2 separate regions of the Homo sapiens genome follow, and region 1 is linked to region 2. Evidence: fine-mapped expression QTL. A gene starts in region 2. The other region holds a variant in brackets. All regions are shown on one strand. Distances are between the middles of the regions.

Region 1 (9,853 bases), 28 kb after region 2:
GTTTCACCATGTTGGCCAGGCTGGTCTCGAACTCCTGACTTCAGGTGACCCACCCACCTCGGCATCCCAAAGTGCTGGGATTACAGGCGTGAGCCACCACGACCGGCCCTGTTGTTCTCTTAATAGAAAAATGGGAAACATTTTATTGGTGGCAGCACATGAAAGTTTATTATTACACAGTAGCTCAGGACTTGTTCTCTAAAAATGTGTAGCTAGAATATATAGGGTTTTAACATGTTGTCTGATGGTATGTATGGTTGAAACGGAGGCTAAAGTCCTGAAAGGCAAAACAAATAAAATGCTGAAAGGTAACACTACCCTGTAGATCTCAGTTGTGTCACTTGAGAAAAAATGAGGATGTTAAAGTCTTAGGTATTTGTTTTTAGAGGGCTTATTTGAAAATTATTTACCTCTTGCATCTGGAGTTTCTGTATACTGAAGCCGCCATCATCTCTCAACTGTGTTATTGTAATATTAATAACTAACTTATCTTTCTGCTCCCATGCTTGCATCCTTACATGTGTTCCCCAAACAGCAGTCTCAGTGAATCTTCTAAAAACTACTAAACAAGTTTTTAGAACTTCTAAAGCCCTAAAATCAGGACTTCTTTTTCCTAATAAGTGGTTGCCTAGGTTACTTAGTTCAACCCTTCTGCTGAAAATAATTTTAAAAAGAAAAACTGGACAAAATATAAGAAATATTTTCTTAAAATCAATAAAGAGATGACAAAACAGTAAGGAATTATCATTTCAAAAAGTGAAGGGAAAGCTTAGAGGGTTTGGAAACCGTGGAAACCACTTTTGCCCTGAAGGCACTTGCATATTCTCCCATTTCTAATATTTGACACCGTCACTGGGGGTCTCAGTGTACAGAAATCAAGGCCAGGGGCTGGCAAAGTAGGGAGTCTCATAGAAGACTGTGGTGGACAGGCTCTAAGCTCCCTCCACCCTAAGTGTCGGGAAAGGGACCTGTGACTTTCATGTAACTGACAGAAATGGCAAACTGATGGGATATCACTCCCAGGGTAGTTATGTTATAAAAGACTAGGTCTTGTTAGTAAACTCTCTCTCCATTGCAAGCTGTGAAGAAGGAAGCTGTCGTAAAGTAAGTGGCCACATTGGAGTAGCCCACATGGCAAGGAACTTAGGGCAGCTTCCAGCAAAAAATTAAAGCTACAGACTCAAGACACCCCATTGTCAGAGGCATGTGAACCAGAGCAACTCCATCTTGAATAGGAGCTGGGTAAAATAAGGCTGGGACCTGCTAGGCTGCATTCCCAGGTGGTTAAGATATTCTAAGTCACAGGATGAGTTAGGAGGTCGGCACAAAATGCAAGTCATAAAGACCTTGCTGATGAAACAGTTTGCAGTAGAGAAGCCGGCTAAAACCCACCAAAAGCAAGAGAGTGATGAGAGTGACCTTTGGTCATCCTCACTGCTACACTCCCGCCAGCACCATGAGTTTATAAATTACCCTATATGGTCTAAAAAGGGGAGGCATGGAAAATCTACCCCTTTTTTTAAGCATATCATCAAGAAATAAACATAAAAATGGCAACCAGCTGCCCTCAGGCTGCTTTGTAACCATTTTTTTTATTCTACTTACTTTCTTAATCAACTTGCTTTCACTTTACTCTATGGACTCGCCCTGAATTATTTCTTGCGCAAGATCCAAGAACCCTCTCTTGGGGTCTGAATCAGGACCCTTTCCTGTAACATCTTTCTGGCAACCACAGAAGGGAATATAGTGTGGAAACCCCCGACCCAAAGGGTAACTTTGGATAAGTGGTGGGGTCCTGTGGCATCTTTCTCATGAGCCACAGAAGGGACAATACTGAGGAGACCCACCAACCCAAAGGAAATAGACCGCAGCACTGATTGGACGACTTTGGGTAAGTGGTGGAGTACGCAGGTAAAGAATGGGATTGGGTTAGAGGCCCAACTTAGGCTAGTTAGAGTCTCTTCCAAAACAGAATGAGTTAGAGGCCCCTCTTAATAAAAGGCAAGGATACTTGACTGACCTTGGGTTAGAGGCCCAACTTAGGAGGGTTAGAGTCCCTCCTAAGATTTAGGGGGTTAGAGGCCCCTCTCAGTAAAGTCCCTCTCATCTAAGAACAGGTTTGGCATTATGGGATGTTAACTGCTATTTTCTTTGGATTAATCTGCCTTGCACTCTTTGCTGATGGCTATGAGTGACAGAATTAGGCACTTACAGGATCGTGGGACATGGGGAGCTTTTTGCTTCCTAAAAGGGGAAACTTGAGAGCTGGTGGGACTGCTGGAAAAGATCCCTTCACGACCAACAAGCGGCCGCCTGAACTTTTCAGGGTCGCTGCAATGGGTGGGTCTTTCTCTGGCCTCCCTGAGAGCCTCGCCTTCCCCACCCTGCCACAAGCAATGCTTTTCTTTCTCTCATTTCTTTTTTTTTCTATTACTCAGGGTGACCATCTTGCCCAGAGAACACATGTTGAAACTCCTGGTCGGAGGTTGGATTTATGATGATAGGGGCAAGTTTGAGCCTTGCCAGTTTGATACTGGGTGCTAAGTAGAGTGGTTAATGTCTATGTTTTGTCACACATATTTTGCTCTGACCAGAACAGAAAAAGATAATTTTCCTTTGTGTTGCGTCTTGGCCCACAGGGCTGTGGTGCAGCCAGACGGGTCACTAGGGACGCTCAGGGAAAGGGAACCCAGAGACCTGGCATGCCAGCAAAAGGATAAGAATGTGTTACCAGTCAGATGCCTGGCCTCTCTCTCTCTGTTTCTGTGTGTGTGTGTGTGTGTGTGTGTGTGTGTGTGAACTGCATGAGGTTTCCCTCTGGTCAGTCATGTCCTTGGGAGCCTGACCTTGTAACCATGTGGCTGTGCTTTCTCTTTTCACAATGGTGGCCCAAGTTTAGGGTGCATTTCTGGCTTACGGATGAATCCTTTATCTTCTGTCTGTCTGTGTATTTGTATGTGTTGTGTGTGTGACGTTTATATCTAAAAGAGCTTTGATTAATTGGTTTAATAGTAATAAAAGCTTAAATCAAATATTTTGTCAGAAAAGTAAAAAGTATAATGCCTTTTAGTTCATGTGACTTAAGTAATCCTCAGAAAATAAAGACAGTTTTAAAGATTATTGGTAAAATAAAAATATCTTCAAAAATGTAAACATTTGGTCTAAATTACACAGGTTAGATATTAAGTTTGCTAAAGGCTTTAAGGTCATAAACTGCTTCTTTGACGTTTAAAAATTGTTCAATTTACCTCCCTTGGAGATATTAGATTGTAGGTAAGACCTGGACACATGTGGAGTTAGCCATGTCCCCTAGCTATGCTGGAGGGTCAGCTCTTATCTGCACTTCTGCCTGGTATGTCCTAGGCTAGGCTCCACACCTAGTACATCATTAAAATCCCAAACTTACCAAGGTTTTCACCAAAAATAAAAGTTGCCAGGAGTTAACATTATAACATGTAATTGAGACTACTGAGGAAACGGTTCTACATGTAAGGCATGTAAAAAAAAGTAAAACGTGTTTTTGGTAAAAGATTATAAGAAGGCATAGGAATGTGGATTTTTTGCCTAAGTTTAAAGGGTCAAAGGATTGTTTTAAGTTAAATAAAATAAAGCTAAAGGTTTGAACAAGTTATCGAAGGCTTGTAAAGAACTAATTGTAAAAGAAATTCTGTGTGTAAACATGTTGGCTAAAGTTAAAGTGGCATTATTCAGTTTTTCTGTAAACTGAACATTGGAACAAAAGCACAACAGGTTTTTCTTAGAGCAAAAACCTGCTTATAATCTGCTCTTTAACAAAAATTTTTAAGGGTTATAAAAGGTTTATGAGAATCTTACCTTATGGCCAAACATTAAAATTTGGTAGATTTGTCTATAAGGTTTTATTAAGAACTGGGTTTGACATCAATAATGCCCTAATGCAACAGTGACATTTGGCTTTTTTGGCATAAAAATCATACAGGAAGCATTATTAAATATAAAATAGTGTTTAGCTTTCTTTGGGCTGTATTTGTATAAATGTGTTATTGGTATGTGTTCCAAAATTATTTTAAAACTCCTGTAATTCTGACAGGACTTAGTGTACGATTGTTACATAAAATCCTTGTGTGCCACAAAGGTACTCAAAATTTCCTAGTCAATTTTGGCTTGACTGTGCTAAAACTTTTTGTCATCCATAAAAAAATTGTAGTCTCGTTTTGTTCCTCTTTAGAAGGTGGTTTACAATCAGCTATAGAGCTATACAGGGGCTCTTAAATGCAGGTTTTCTGGTAACTTCGGAGATTGTGACATCAGAATAGAGGAAAAAAACTTTCAGAGCTCTCACAGGGAGCTGAAATGTTCATGAATATCAAACAAAAGTTAACTGCATAGAGTAACTAAAGAAGTCTGAAGTATCTTCTAAACTTTTTGCTTAAAACGTTTTTTGCTTAAATCCTTTGTTTTGTTTTTCAGAGTCAAGAAAACTTTTTTTTGAGCTATTTACAGCTTTTAGCAATTGAGTAAAGTATACTCCTCCGAACAAAATTTGGAGCTTATTTGTTTCTCTCTACCTGATTTCTCCAGAATTTGGAAACTAGTTGTGAATATTCTTAAGTTATGGCAATATAGGTATTTGCATAAGTGCAATAAGAATGTTTTCTTTTGCAACAGGACACAATTGGAGAAATTGGTTATTTTACCAACACTTTGATTGGAATGGTGTGCTTTTCTTTAAG[G/C]AATCAAACTTGACTTGTAAAGCCAATAAAAGCCCCTTGGGCAATTGGCCTCAGACCTTGTCTACAAGGTCCCCATACAAGGTATGGATAACAGTCCCCATACAAGGTTTCTGACCTGTGGTAAGTAAAGAATGTCACTTTCTAACAGGTCCAGAAGCCCCAGGTTATCTTGCGACCCCAAGAGGAGAGGAATTTATTCAACTCATAGGTATTCGAGGGTACAAACCCATGAAAGGGCTCGGCTCTAAAAAAGTCTTATGTAAGATTCCTTCTAGGGAACAGAGTTCCATCAAAGCCTGTGCAAAAAGAGCTTATGAAAAAAATAATTATTTTTGCTGCACTTTATACAAGTAATCAGGCCAAGCAAAACAAAGCAAATTGGTCTTACCATAACTTATCTTTAGTAAAAATGGGACACTGGAGAGAGAAATTATGTTTCAAGAACTGTGGTACACTGTTTATTAAATTCTAGTCTCATCAGTTGTTTTTAAGTTTGTTTCTGCAATTTAGGCTAACGCTGCTTATTTCTGTGAACCAACCAGAAATCTCTGACTGCTGCTCAGAAGAAACAAAAGGGAAAGGTAATGTGAAAATCTGAATCAGTATTCTAATTCTGGGCATGTACTGGAATCATCTAGCAACCCTATATCAGCTTGGTTCCAATAGTTGCCCAATTCATATAAAGCCTTCTAATTTAGTTTACTTGAGATAGTTTTACTTATTTTGCTTTACTGTTGTGGAATATATTGCTGTTGTACTCTTTGTGTAGGAATGTAGGATAAGCTTACTGAACGTTTTCTTAAACTAAATACGTATTAATCTTCGAGATATCACCTTTTCTCGGAACTCAAAGTTATGATTGGCCCTTGCCATACCAATGCTTTCTGATTGAGTTCCTCTCTACCCTAAACACAAGAGGCTCTAATAGCTAGGCAGGAATATCATCACCCCTATTCAGGTGAAGCCGTTACAAAAGATGGATCGTCATCCCTCTGCAACCTTAGGATTAAGGGTTCTCCTATAAAAGGCAGAAGGGACATGTCAGAGGCATATGAACCAGAACAACTCCATCTTGAATAGGAGCTGGGTAAAATAAGGCTGAGACCTGCTAGGCTGCATTCCCAGACAGTTAAGTCATTCTAAGTCACAGGATGAGTTAGGAGGTTAGCGCAAAATACAAGTCATAAAGATGTTGCTGATAAAACAGGTTGCAGTAAAGAAGCTGGCTAAAACCCACCAAAAGCAAGATAGTGATGAGAGTGATCTCTGGTCATCCTCACTGCTACACTCCCACCAGCACCAATGACAGTTTACAAATGCCATGGCAACGTGAGGAAGTTACGCCATATGGTCTAAAAATGGGAGGCATGAATAATCCACCCCTTGTTTAGGATATCATCAAGAAATAACCATAAAAATGGGCAACCAGCAGCCCTCAGGGCTACTCTTGTCTATGGAGTAGCCATTCTTTTATTCTTCTACTTTCTTAATAAACTTGCTTTCACTTTACTCTGTGGACTCGCCCTGAATTATTTCTTGCGCAAGATCTAAGAACCCTCACTTGGGGTCTGAATCAGGACCCCTTTCCTTTAGCACTACGAATTCCAGCAAGTACAAAAGAAATACACACATAGAGCCATCATAGTGAAGATAAAGAAAACCAACGAAAAAGAGAAAAGCTTCAAAGCTGCTAGGGAAAAATATAAATTATGTTTAAAGAGAGGTATATAACATGTGAGAGGCATGTCTGAAGAATCTGATTCATTAGGTTTAGGGCAAAGCCCAGGAATCTGACTTTTTAACAAACATCCAAGTGACTCTTACCTTTGTGGAATATTGGGAATATGGTTAGGAGGTGAGGATTACAAAGTTGGTCACACCACTGATCAATTTGAGTGAAGAAATATTCCCCACTATAGGAAAGGAGAGGAGAAACTGCAGGCAAGGGGCTAGATCTGAGAAGATGTAACATGGTCCATCCCTAGATAGGTTCACTCACGTTTGGAAGGCACAGATGTGCAGGAAATAAAATTTTAAGGCAAGCCAACTATGATCTCCTTGAATGGGCAATAATGGGCAAAATAGAGGTTTTGACTGTGGGGGTCTGAGAAAGCTTTGTGGAGGAAGTACCTTCTGAGCTAGGCTGCTCTCTACAGCTCTAAAATTCTTCCCAGGTGAATATGAAAAGAGAGTCAAATTCCAAGAATGACAAGTAGTTTTGAGCAAAGGAAGAAAGGTACAAAATGCCAGAGCTGGTTTGAGTAAAAACAAAAAAATTGAGCTATTTCTTCCATACCCGAAGAGAAAATGCTATGCTAAGTGGATGGAGAGGTAGAAAAGGGCCAGGTGGAAATGACTGGACAGTTTGAAAATCTGTTGCAGAGGTCTGACTAAATTGTGGGAGAGAATGGGTAGGTGAGAAGAGAACGCGGACCCTGAAAAATCTACTGAGACCAGGAGCCCCTGAGATAGGCAAAGCCCAAGGTCAGTTCCTGCCTCAGGAGCCCCAATCCCCACACTTTCAAGGGTCACTTTCTGACTCCATAACTGACCAACAAATTCTGAGACTTTAGCTTCAAAATGCCAAAACCCTCTGCTAATTCATTCCAGTGGTAGGGACCCTGTAAGTCCCCTCCTGAAACTTTCAACACTTCTCTGCCTGCTCTAACCCCTGCCTACTCATCTAGCATCTTTCACTTGTTCAAAAGTCCTGTTTGTTCTGTGAAAGGAAAAAATAGAACGGGTGGCAGGTTTTCCCAGTGCAGTTCCCAGCTTGACTTTTCCCTTTGGCTTAGTGATTTGGGGGTCCCAAGATTTACTTTCCTTTTACCGTTCCTACATCAGGAATGATTTCTCTCTTTTCATTAGCAATTTCTTCTTTTCTCCTCCTCTTCATTTGACTAACTTATTATACTTCTTTGTCAGGTCTCTATTTAAAAATTTCTTACTCAAAAGAAGCCTTTCCTACTCCTTTAGTCTAAACTGTCCTCCACTCGTTACCTGTTACGCCCTTCTAATTTTTCGTCATAGCATGTACAAATATTTAAGATTACATGCTTATTTTTGTTGTGGCTCTCTCCTTTCACACAGTAAGCTCTGGGACCTATCTGTGTCCTTCACCACCCTTTACTCGGTACCTAGCCCAGAGCTCACTCTCACCATTAATATTTGTTTTAAAGAGAGAGGAAGGAGAGGATTGCGACCTTAATAACTCTTAGCCCACAGCCTTGGCATACCCCCTTCTCAGGACCCTCTGAATTCTCAAGAGCCTCTTGCCTTTCCTGTCTTCTTCTCTAGAGTGTGTGCCTGGGTTCAAATCCTGGTGTTAATATTCACTAGCTGTGTTACACTGGATAAGTGGTCTATACTGTTTAAATCTCGGTTTTCTGAGGTGATAGCAGTTACCTCATAGGGTTGTCAGGAGGATTATGAGAAAATCCATGTGAAACATCTAACAGAGTACCTGGAAAATTATTGATAAAAATTAGCTGCCATTGTTATTGTCATTAATAACTAGCAATCTCTAAGATTCAAGCTATTGGGTTTTTTTCCCACAAGAAAGTTCTCATTATATATATAAATCTGTGTATCTTTATATATATATATATATATATATATATATATATACACACACACACGTAATATACGTATGTATATATACTTACATATATAAAGAGTTCTTATAAATCAATAAGAAAATACAAGCACAATAGGAAAATGAGCAAACATTATAAACATGCAAATTCATAGAAATATGTTTAAAAATTGTAATGTTATTATCAGAGTAAAAAGGAGAGATGGAGTATAGTCTGACTCTCAGGTACTCCCATAACTTTCCTGCTATAGTTCCTCCCACTGGTGTTGGGGAAGAAGGAAAAGCAGAAAGACAGCATCCCCTTCCTTAGCCAGGTGACGCTGTGCTCCCGTCTCTGTGGGTGGTTACTGCTTCTCTGGCTAACACAGACTGGCGTGATGGCCTCTGTGAGGCAGGTGTCCAGATCCTGGCACTTCTGGAGCATATATGTAGTTATCTGGAGGTCACATATTTGTCTAATTCTTCTCATGCCCCCTTATAATACCCCCCACCAGAAATGTATTTGTAGGAATCCTCAGTGATGCCTCTGTATGCCTTCCATGAGATCCCTTGTATGCGCTCCCTCGTATGCAGTCTCAGTGAGATCTCAGCTCCATTCCTTGGAGTACTTCAACCACCCTGGGACACTGCTGTCACCACCACCAGGGTTTCACTACTCTAGAACTGTGAAGTTTTCCTCCAAATGCAGAGGGAACACCCCTCCTCCCCCCCAACTCTATACAACAGAGATTCTAAATAAGCAAGGTGGTATAGTTATTGTAAGAGAATTCCGCAATAGAATCCTCCAAGGAGATTTGGTGGCTGAAGAATCTAAAGGTCTTCCCCTGGAAGTGGTCCGAGAGCATGGCCCTGGGGAAAGCACTGGGGCTTACATTGCTCACTTCCACCTTCATTCCCCTCTTTTGTTTTTTAATCTTTCCCTCAATTTATTTCCTTCTTAAAAAGATGATTTAGCAGGGTGATCCCCTGGGAATTGTTAGAAATCAAGGCTCTCAAGCCCATCCCAGACCTTCTAAATCAGAACCTGTACTTTAACAACACCCCTAGATCATTCCCATACAAATTACAGTTTGAAAAGTACTGATACATAGGACAGAATTTTTGGATTCTCCCACCCCAGTTATTCACACTTAAGTTCATTTTTGGCCCCACAGCTCCATTCCCTGCCTTTGGCCTGTGGTCTTCACTGCCAGCAAGGACTCCTTGCCTAATTAGCTAGTCAGCCTACAGGGTCTACCGCAGTAGTGCTGCAGGGATTCCATTTAGGCAGCTTTACTTCTGTTCATTTTGAAGCAATGTTGGTATCATCTGCACCAGTAACTCCATAATACCCTCTTCTTCAGGTGTGTTTTAAGATATTTCAGCTGGGCGCAGTGGCTCATCCCTGTAATCCCAGAACTTTTGGGAGACCAAGGTGGGCAAATCACAAGGTCAGGAAATCAAGACCATCCTGGCCAACATGATAAAACCCAGTCTCTGCTAAAATACAAAAAATTAGCCAGGTGTGGTGGCGGGCACCTATAGTCCCAGCTACTCGGGAGGCTGA
Region 2 (9,853 bases):
CCCCTTAAGTGGGCCCTCAGTATTTTCCTATTATTTCACTACATTCCTCAGGTCTCCTTTTCCCTTCTCCCATTATATATTGTTTTCTTAAACCATCTTGACTACTAAAAATTTTCATCACACGCACACACACAAACACACACACACCACTCTCTGATAACCAGATCTCCAACTCCATAGCAAAAATAAAAACTATCAGACAGCAGCTCCCTACCAAATCTACAAACAACTGTCTCAGTTAAGATGCAGGTTAGGTTGCCCTGACAATAGAGGAAAAAAACTGTAACGAGTTAAGACTGCAGTTTCTTTTTCATGCAGAAGAATCAGGGATGATAAAATGGTTTGAGAGTATAGGAGACCCAGACTCCTTCCATTTTGTCACTCTGCCATCCCTAATATGTTACCCTCACTGCATGATTGAAGGTGGCTTGCTTTCCTATTTACATTCCTATTGCCCTCCCATAGGGGCAAAGAGGAAGAGAAGGTCCATTTCTCTCCTTTAAGACCTTGATGTGGAAGCTGCACATATCACTTCTACCTACAGACACTACCTAGTCATAGTGTGCATTTTTTGCACTTAGCTGCAAAAAGGTCTAGGAAATGTAGCGGTTAATTTGTAGGCCATAACTTATTTTCATCTATAATCATCTTTTTCTACTAATTTCCTCTCACAATTGAGTCTCTACTGCAATCAAAAGCTAGGATCCTCCACTTCCGCTCTGGATTGCATACATCCCTGACTTCTCAGGAACCTTGCATTATTAATTAGCCATTCTCCTGTATCTTTAGTCTTTTTATATATTGGAGTAATTCCATCTGCCAAAAAAATGAAAAAAAGAGAAAGAAAGAAAGGAAGAAAGAGAGAAAGAAAGAAAAGAAAGTTCAAGTCCACCCATCTTAAAAAAAAAAATCTTTCATTTGACATCCTCTTGCAGCTCTATCCCCTTTCCTTAGTAACTACATTTCTTAAAAACTTGTCTGAAGTCATTTACTCCACTTCTTCCCACCATATTCAGTTTTCAGGACATCTACCCTGCCTTCTGCCTCAACAACCTCACTAAAATGGCTCTTTCTAAGGTTGCCAAAGATCTCCAGGTTACTAATTTTGGACCACATTTCTCATTCCTCATTTTGCTTACCCAGGAGCAGCATTTGAATGAGTTCACCAGTTTCTTCTTGCACCTCTTCTCTTTTAGCTTTTATGATGCTTCACTCTCTGGGTTTCCTCCTGTCCCTCTGTCTACTCTTTCTTGGTGTCTTTTGCAGGCTCATCTTTCTCTATCCAGTCTTTAATAATGACCTCTAAAAGTCTGACTTGATCCTTCATTTGTTCTTATTCTACACACTCTAATTCTGTGGTTTGCATTACTTCCTATATGATCTGTATATTTAGCTTCCTAATGGAATTCTACTTAGGTATCTAATAGACATCTGAAACTTAATATGTCCAAAACAGAACAGATTTGATGGTGGGAGTTTCTCTGTGCTAGTTACTATTTTCTCTATGAAGTTGGAGTCTAGGTTGAGAGTGAAGAATGCTCTGTGTCTCTGTGTGTGTGTGTGTGTGTGTGTGTGTGTGTGTCAGGGTGGGAGAAGAAATTAGAGATTTTATGAGACGAGAAAATTTAAAAACAATATTGTGTAAAATGAGAGAAAGAAGGTAATCAGGGAAATTTGGTAAGACATCTACTCATTCTAAGCAGCACAGTATGAACAACTGAATTCTGATTTCCAAAATCCCTGACTTTGACTTCTGGCTCTTTCACCTAGTAGCTTTGTGGCTTTGGGCAAGTTACTTAAACTCTCTCTAAGCCATAGTTTTTTCATCTAAAATAGTGATCAACAATATTGGACCTAAATTCATGGTTCTTCATGAAGATTAAATGTACTTACAGGTAATGTGCCTTGAACATCATAGGTGATCATCAAATAGTTTATATTGAGTTACCAGAAACCTTATTCATTTTTTATCTCATCCTTCTTTCTCACCCTCCACATGCAAATTATCTTTAAATTCTGTTTCTACCTCCTAGATAGGTCTTAGATCAATCTTTTCCACTACGTCCATGACTTTAGGTCAAGCCACTACCATCTCTCACCCAAATTACTGTCATAGACTCCCAATTGGTCCCACCTTTTAAGTTGCTCCCCACACTAACTCCACTGCAATCTTTCCAAATCTTTCTAAATCTTAACAAATTTCCAATGCTCCCAATTCTTCCTTGCATGGCTTGCAAGAGTCTGCATTTGCTGCCTCATGAGATAGAAGGTGTATGATTTGTCTGTTGCTGTTGTAATAAATTACCATGAATGTAGTGGCTAAAAACAACACCCATTTATTAGCTCACAGATCTATTGGCCAGAGGTCTACACAGTGTGGCTGGGTTCTCTGCTCAGGGTATCAGAAATCAAGGTTTCAGCCAGACTGAATTCTCTTCTACAGACTCGGGGGAGGACTGAAGTCTCTGTTCTTTTGCTGGCTGTCAGCTAGAGACTGCTGTCAACTAGAGGCCACTCTCAGGGCTTGTCCTGTGCCCTCCTTCACCCTCGAGCCAGAAAACAGCCACCATTCGTTCCTTGCCACATTATCCCCTCCATCTTCAAGCTATCAACAGTGTGTTGAATTCTTCTCATTCTTCCAATCTCTTTGATTTCCTCTTCTGCTACCAGCAAGAAAAAAAGAACCCTTGGCTTTTAAAGAACTCATGTGACTTGGTTAGGACTAGCCAGATAATCTGTCTATCTTGAGATCAACTGATTAGTAGAATTAACTCCATCTGCAAAATCCCTTTTGCCATATAACATAATTGTGGGAGTAGTATCTCATCATATGCACAGGTCCATCCACACACAAAAGAAGATTATATAAGGGTGACAGTCATTGGTGGTCATCTTCTAATTCTGCCTACCCAAGGAGAGGAAGCCAGGGGAAATATCCCTGAAGAATCGTAGCTTGAGCTGAGATCAGATGGATGAGTAAGTGTTAACTAGGTAAGGAAGGAAAGAAGAAGCTTCCAGAGAGCATATGGAAAAGTCATGCAACTGAAGGACATATAGCAAAAAAAAAAAAAAAAAAAAAGAAAAGAAAAAAGAAAAATAAAAGAGAAAAAAGAAGGAGTGACCAAAAAAAGGCTAATGTGTTTACAGTGGAGAGAATAAGAATCATTGTGACTCTTATTTGAAATAATGTGATTTGAAATAATGTGGCTAGAGAGGTAAGTGGGAGCCAGGCCTCACAGGCTTTCTAAATTCTGTTAATATGTTTTCTCATTCCCAAAAGCAAAGGTCAAAAGAGTGGGATAGTCAGATTTGTATTCTGAGCATAGTACTTCGGCTTTAAGGTGAAGTATAGATGTAGAGAGGCATCAGTAAAATGTGGTGGCCCATTTAGGAGGTTAGGAGTGTGGTTCAAGAGTAGGGTAATATCAGTGGACATATAAGCAGGCAGATTCAAGGAACACTCAGTAGCTAAAATGAACAGGACTTTGTGATTGATTCAATATGGGAGTGATGTAGTTATGTTCCCCAGGAAGCAGACTCTCAAACAAAGATTACTGTGGAGGATGTTTACTAAGGAGCGTTCTTGGAGTTAACACCTGTGCAAGAGAGAGGATGAAAATAGGATTGGGCAAAAGGAGAAGCTGAGTAGTAATTCAGTCCCAGCAAAGACCTCAGTCAACCATATGAAGGGTTCTAGGGGTGTGAGCATCTTTCAGAGTTGTCCACCACTGGGTTGAGGGGATTAAACTTTTATACCTCTGTGCTGATCGGTCATTGGATATAGAATGCCCAAGAAAGGGAGCATAACCTTGGATGAGCTGGCTTTCTTCTGCTTAGGCAACTCCTGAAGGGTTATGACAGCTGAGGGCCATCTTTTAGGAGCACTCTCCACAGCTGGAAAATAAATCCTCCATTTTTGAAGAGGGTTCTGGGCTTTGCATCACAGCATCCAGCGCAGGGGTGAAGGAGCATAGGGGAGTAAGGCATCAATAATAATTCCTAAATTTCTGATTTGTACATCCTGGTGGGTGCACTTAACGACCATATATTACAATCATTGGCTTGCTTGGGAAAATCCCACTAGAGTAGGTGCTACTGAGGGGCAAACTATATTGGACAACTAGTGCATACCCCTAGAACTGGCATAGTTTGCTAAATAAGTGAATGTCCATCTATTTCTATTTTCACTCCCCTCTCCCTTACATCCTTTGCTCCCTTCCCTCCTCATCGTACTGTCATCCAATGTGGGAAAACTTGAGCAGGTTATCTGAGGCCCCACCTGTGCTGGAGCGGAACAAATAGCAAATCAAGCTCCTCTGGTCCAGGCTCTCTGATGGGCAAGACAGGCAGTACCAGGAGGAAGGAAAGGGGGAGCAGTTGATGACATCTCAGGCATAAACTGTCTTTCAACTCTCTTTCAATGCTTCAGCCCCTATAAACTCAGGGCTGGCTGAACCAGGTCCTCTCCAAAAGATTAATTGGATAAGGGCCTGCTGAATCCCCCATAAAGCCAGACTCCATTCTCTAATTTGCTCTTCCACTGATGCCCGCCCCCAACCTCTTACAGCTACTGCTGGGGGTCAGAAGAATTTCACATCGTATTGGAGTTCATCCGGAATCTGAAGAATGGATAGGAATCTGGAGATAGGAATCTGGAGATAGGAATCTGGGGAAGAAAAGGAATGGATAGGAGAATGCATAGGGAGCAGGGCTGAAATAGTAGAAGAGGCAAATCCTGCCCCGAGAAGCTGAACCCAGTTCAGTCCTGCACCCTTCAGCCCTGTTCCCGCTGCACCGCAGTGACCCAGTCCCCTTCTAGCCCCCTCTCGTGGGAACCTGACACCCTACACAGGCAGCTCTGCCTGCACTGAGAGCAAACAGGGAGCGTTAGCGTGTCGGGTGGGCGTGGGCGCTGCCTGGAGACGGTGGAGAAAGCCAACCTTCTCCTTCTCTTTTGCCTGCGCTGGGCCGGCGTTAGAATTATATCCCATCCTCACCTTACTCTGGTTTATCCTTGTCAGTGCTTGCCACCACCCCCAACTGCCCTCAACACTCAAGTCAGAAGCTTCCTCCCGGGAGCCCTTTTCCCTGGCAAGGCTTCCCTGGAGCCAAATCTCGGCCCCGGCCCCACCCCCACTCCCGCCCAGCTGTGGAGGGCTCCTTGGGACCCTTAAGTGCAAGCCTGAGTGTTAAGCCTCAGACAGGAGATGGAGGGTGCGGAGACAGATGCAGGAGCTACCCCAGGCCCGCAGCGAGGAGCTGCAGGGAACTACGGTAGCAATAGTGTCACGGTCACTGCGGCCACTGCAACACAGTACGGTAAATGCGGCTCTAGGCTCAGACTAAAGCATCCGCGCCTCAGCAGGTGACGCACGCAGACCTGGTCTCCAACGCCACCTCCACGTTCCCTGATACACCAGAGAAAGATGCTGGATCCGTGGCAGCCGTCTCTACCCAACCCCTCCTACCCTCCCTTCCCCGAAACCTCCCCCTACGCTGCCAATACTCTTGTCTTCAATCTCTCTCTCTCTCTCTCTCTCTCTCTCTCTCTCTCTCTCTCTCTCTCATTCCTGGGAATCGGGGGTGGGGGCGGGTGATAAAGAGAGGTGGGCAGGAGAGAAATCTCTAAGAGGAGACGGGACACATCTAGGGAGGGGGCGAGCCTGGAGGACAGTCGCACAGGGAGGGGCAGAACTCCCGAGCCAGGGAGGGGGTGCACAGTCACCTGGCGGGACAGAGGCTGGCGGAGGGACGGGAACCCAGGCGGGGCGAGCCGCGGGAGAGTGGAGGGCAGGCGCCTGGGCTGGGGGCGGGGACCAGGCGGGGCAGGGGGCAGGGAGAGGAGGGCGGCGGGAGCCTGAGCCGGAATCGCAGCGTGAGCAGGTGGAGCCGCGTTGGGAGCCCGCCGGGTCGAGCTGAGTAAGGCGGCGGGCTCGGCGGGGGCCATGGAGCTGCTAAAGCTGAACCGGAGCGTGCAGGGAACCGGACCCGGGCCGGGGGCTTCCCTGTGCCGCCCGGGGGCGCCTCTCCTCAACAGCAGCAGTGTGGGCAACCTCAGCTGCGAGCCCCCTCGCATTCGCGGAGCCGGGACACGAGGTGGGTGCCTCCCTCAGCCCCCCCCACAAGCTATTTCTCACTGTACCCCAGAACACTAATAGAGTCCCCCCAACGAGCTCCACACTACCTTCTCAAACGTCCACACCGTGCCTCTCATAGTACTCCCTCAGCCCCCAAACAGCTCCCCTCACACCTTCACCCCCACAGCCTACAACTTCATCACAGCTTCACACCACCTGGTCGGAACTCCTTCACATCCTGGTCCCCTGAATACACCTAGAGCCCCTGCTCACCCCAAAGCACAGCCCCTTCCCCAACACGCAGCCCCTCCTAGACACCAGTCAGAAGGCGAGGACCTCCTCTTGCCAACCCTGCAGATCTCCTTTTCCCTCTTACATCCAGTTCACAGAGCCACAACAGAGAAGGGAAGGAAGAAAGGAAGGCAGGACTGGGAAAAGAAGGGGGCTGGTTGAGGGAGGGAGCACTCTGGAAAGCTTGAATGCGAAGCTGAAGTTGTGATCACATCTGACACCCCAGCCCCCAGCCATCCCAAAAAAGATCCTCAAATCTGAATTAGGCTGGACACTAGGGGATGCTCCTTAGAGCTGCCTGCCTCCATTTCACTCCTTCTCAAACCCCTCTGCCTCCCTAGTTGGAGCTTTCGAGGCTCTGTGCCCTCTCTCTTTGTCTGCAAGTAATGTCTCCAGCTATCTTCCAAGCTCTCTCTCCAGCCCTAGGCTAGGTGCTGGGGGCACAGGGCAAACTAGACCCAGTCTGGACCCTCATGGCCCATAGCCAAGTGCAGAGAGAAACCAAGCAAATGGAAAAATCACAGACACAATGGAAGTCCCATGAAAGGGTCTAAACTGTGGGCACCAAAAGAACTTCACAGAGGCTAGAACCTTAGAGCTGGGTCTTGAAGTTGAGTAGGCAGAAAAGGAAGGAGTGGGATTCTAGGTGAAGGAGCAATGTTAAGCAGAAGGAAATTTTTCTAAACTCAAAAAGGGAAAGTTGGAATAAATTGTAATCCAAGTATTTATTTACCCCACGAAATAATCTATGCTTTCTCAGCCGAGTTGTTACACACTCACACTTGGATTCTGTCATTCAGCCAATATTTATTGAACCAGAGATTGTGCTAGGCAGTGGGAATGTAAGTTGAACAAAACCGACACAATTCCTACTTCACAGAGCTCAAAGTTTAATGGGCGAGACAGAAAAGCAGGGGATTGCAGCACAAAGTGGAAGAGCCTTGACAGGGAAAAGATAGTGGGAACACAAGTGGAACACCTCTAGCCCAGCCCAGCCTCCTTGAGAATTAAAGTTGGCCTCTTGAGGAAATGAGCTACAAAGTCAAAAAAATTAGGGAGGCTGGCTCTAAGCTTCCTGTTGGCAAAAAAAAAAAAAAAAAAAAATATATATACACACACACACACACACACACACACACACACACACATATACATATGGGAGAGCCAGCCAAGTGAACGGGCAGAAGAGGCAGAAAGCATCCCAAATAAAAGGACAAGATGTATAAGAAGCTCAAAGTTTGAATTCATGGCACTTTTATCCACTGTGACATAGTTTTGAGTGACTAGAACATATATCTTAAGAAGGGAATAATGAACAGGCTGGAGACCAGCCTAGAGGGTTTGCAGAGAGCCTGCTAGGCCTGACCATGGAACATGGACTTTCTCCCGAGGGCAATAGGAACTACTAAAAGATTCGGTAGTACTACCAGGATTAGTTCTATAATGTGGAGAACGGATTGGAAGACATAAGATGGAAGGCAGGGGGATACTTTACAAGGTTACTATATTACACTGTTCTGGGTGAAAGATGATGCTAGCTGAGACTAAGGTAATGGCAAGGGAGATGGAGAGAGGTGGATAGATTTGAGAGCCTCTTCTGGAAATGGAATCAACAGATTAGAAGCAGAGAGGATGGAAGAGGTCAAGGGATGACATTCAGATTTCTAACTTGGACAACTGAATGGATATTGGTGCTATAGCAATTGTATACAATGAGAAAGATAACAAAACAGCAGAAACAGGTTTGGAAGAGGGAATTATAAATTCAGTTTGGAACCCATTGAGTTTAAATGTTAGTGGGGCATCCAGGTGAGGTTACCTAGTAAGCTGTTGAATCCAGGGGTCTGGAACTTACAGGAGAGGTCTGAGGTGGAAATACAGACTTGAAGAAGGTCTTTGCCTACAGGATGTAGAAGCCCCGAGAATAGTTAAAATCATAAAATTTTGTATAGAATGAGAAGAAAATAGGTCCTAGGTCAAGACTCTGCATAAGACCATTATTTAAAAGCCAGGCAGAGAAAGGAGAATTTATGAAGGAGATTCAGATGAAACCATCAGAAAGGCAGGAGCTACGCCCTTCCAGAAAGCAAGAAAAAGAGAGTTTCAAGCAGGTTGGGGTAAGTGATATCAAATGCTATTGACATAAGTTACATAAATAAAAAACAGGACAGTCAGAACAGCATCCTTCACATTCAATAACAAGAAAATATTTAGGAGTTGTAGGTATTGAGGCTTGACTATGGTAGGTTAAAGATTGGACTGGTGAGAGAAGGAGTTATGAGAAGTGAACCAAGGTATGTAGCCAAAACTTTCAAGAAGTCTGGTAGGCAAAGAAAGAGAGAGAGAGAGAGAGAGAGAGAGAGAGAGAGAGAGAAAGAAAAGCAGGATATTGCCAAAAATAGCATGAGATTGAGGAAGGGGGGAGTGGGTATGTGCATAGGTTTGTTACGTGTGTGCGCGTGTGTGTGCACGCATTTTAAAACAAGAGCTTTTTAAAATGTTTGTTGGTGATTGGGCCGAGAGAGGAAGATTGAAGGTGCAGATAAGAAAGGGGATAGTCAATAGAGAAGATTCCCTGTGAAAGCGGGATGTGACGCAATTCAGAGCACAGGTGCAAAAATTTGCCTCACTTATCTAAATGCTCCTCACACATTTGGATGTTACCCAGCCAGTCAGATGTTACACACAGAGACCCTGTCAGCCACACTCATTCAGATATTATCCCTGCAGATGCATAGGTTACCCAGGTTCACTCCAATGTTACCAATAGGAATTTGGATGTTACCACTTTATTCTCCTTATATAATCCATGCAGACTTGAGTATTACCCATGTTCACTCAGATAGTACCCACAGAAAGACAAATGTTACCACACTCACTTTAATATTGTCCGAAGTCATTTTGGTGTTACCCATCCATCAAACACTACTCACTTTCATTTTATTATTATCCACACACAACCAGATATTACCTATGCTCACTTAAGTAAGCTTTTCCCAGATACTACCCATAAAATTACAAATATTACTCTCACATACTCAGATAATACCCACAAAAGCTTAAATATTACTTACATTCACTCAGGTGCTCAGTTATTTCATTTACTCAGATTAACATCTTTTTTTTTTTTTTTTTTTTGAGGCAGTCTCCCTCTGTTGCCCAGGCTGGGGTGCAGTAGCATGATCATGGCTCATTGCAGTCTTGACCTCCGCAGGCTCAAGTGATCCTCCCACCTCAACCCCCTAAATAGCTGGGACTACAGGCATGTGCCACCACAAGTGGCTAATTTTTTGTATTTTTTGTAGAGATAGGGTTTTTCCATGTTGCCCAGGCTGGTCTCTAAATCCTTGGCTTAAGAGATCTGCCCACCTCAGCCTTCCAAAGTGCTGGGATTACAGATATAAGCCACCATGTCTGGCCCAGATTAACATCTTAATTTAGTTAACATGTTAACATCTAACATCTGTACTCAAATACTACCCATA

Alleles and levels. Positions count from the first base shown, and alleles are read on the strand shown. Sizes are in standard deviations (SD) of each study's normalised expression.
In carriers of allele G in region 1, the expression in tibial nerve of the gene that starts at base 5,855 in region 2 tends to be lower than with C alone (small effect, 0.22 SD a copy in GTEx).

Evidence for each region.
Region 1: its variant is fine-mapped to the expression of CCKBR in tibial nerve (GTEx, PIP 0.96).

The regions. Positions count from the first base shown.
Region 1 is chr11:6,282,453-6,292,305 of GRCh38, forward strand. No RefSeq gene overlaps it. Among named protein-coding and RNA genes, the nearest start is that of CCKBR, 28 kb to the left of the region's middle. The variant G/C (reference allele first, on the strand shown) is at 4,713.
Region 2 is chr11:6,253,984-6,263,836 of GRCh38, forward strand. CCKBR (cholecystokinin B receptor) reads left to right here and starts at 5,855. Exons shown (of 5, transcript NM_176875.4): 1 at 5,855-6,096. The coding sequence starts at 5,946.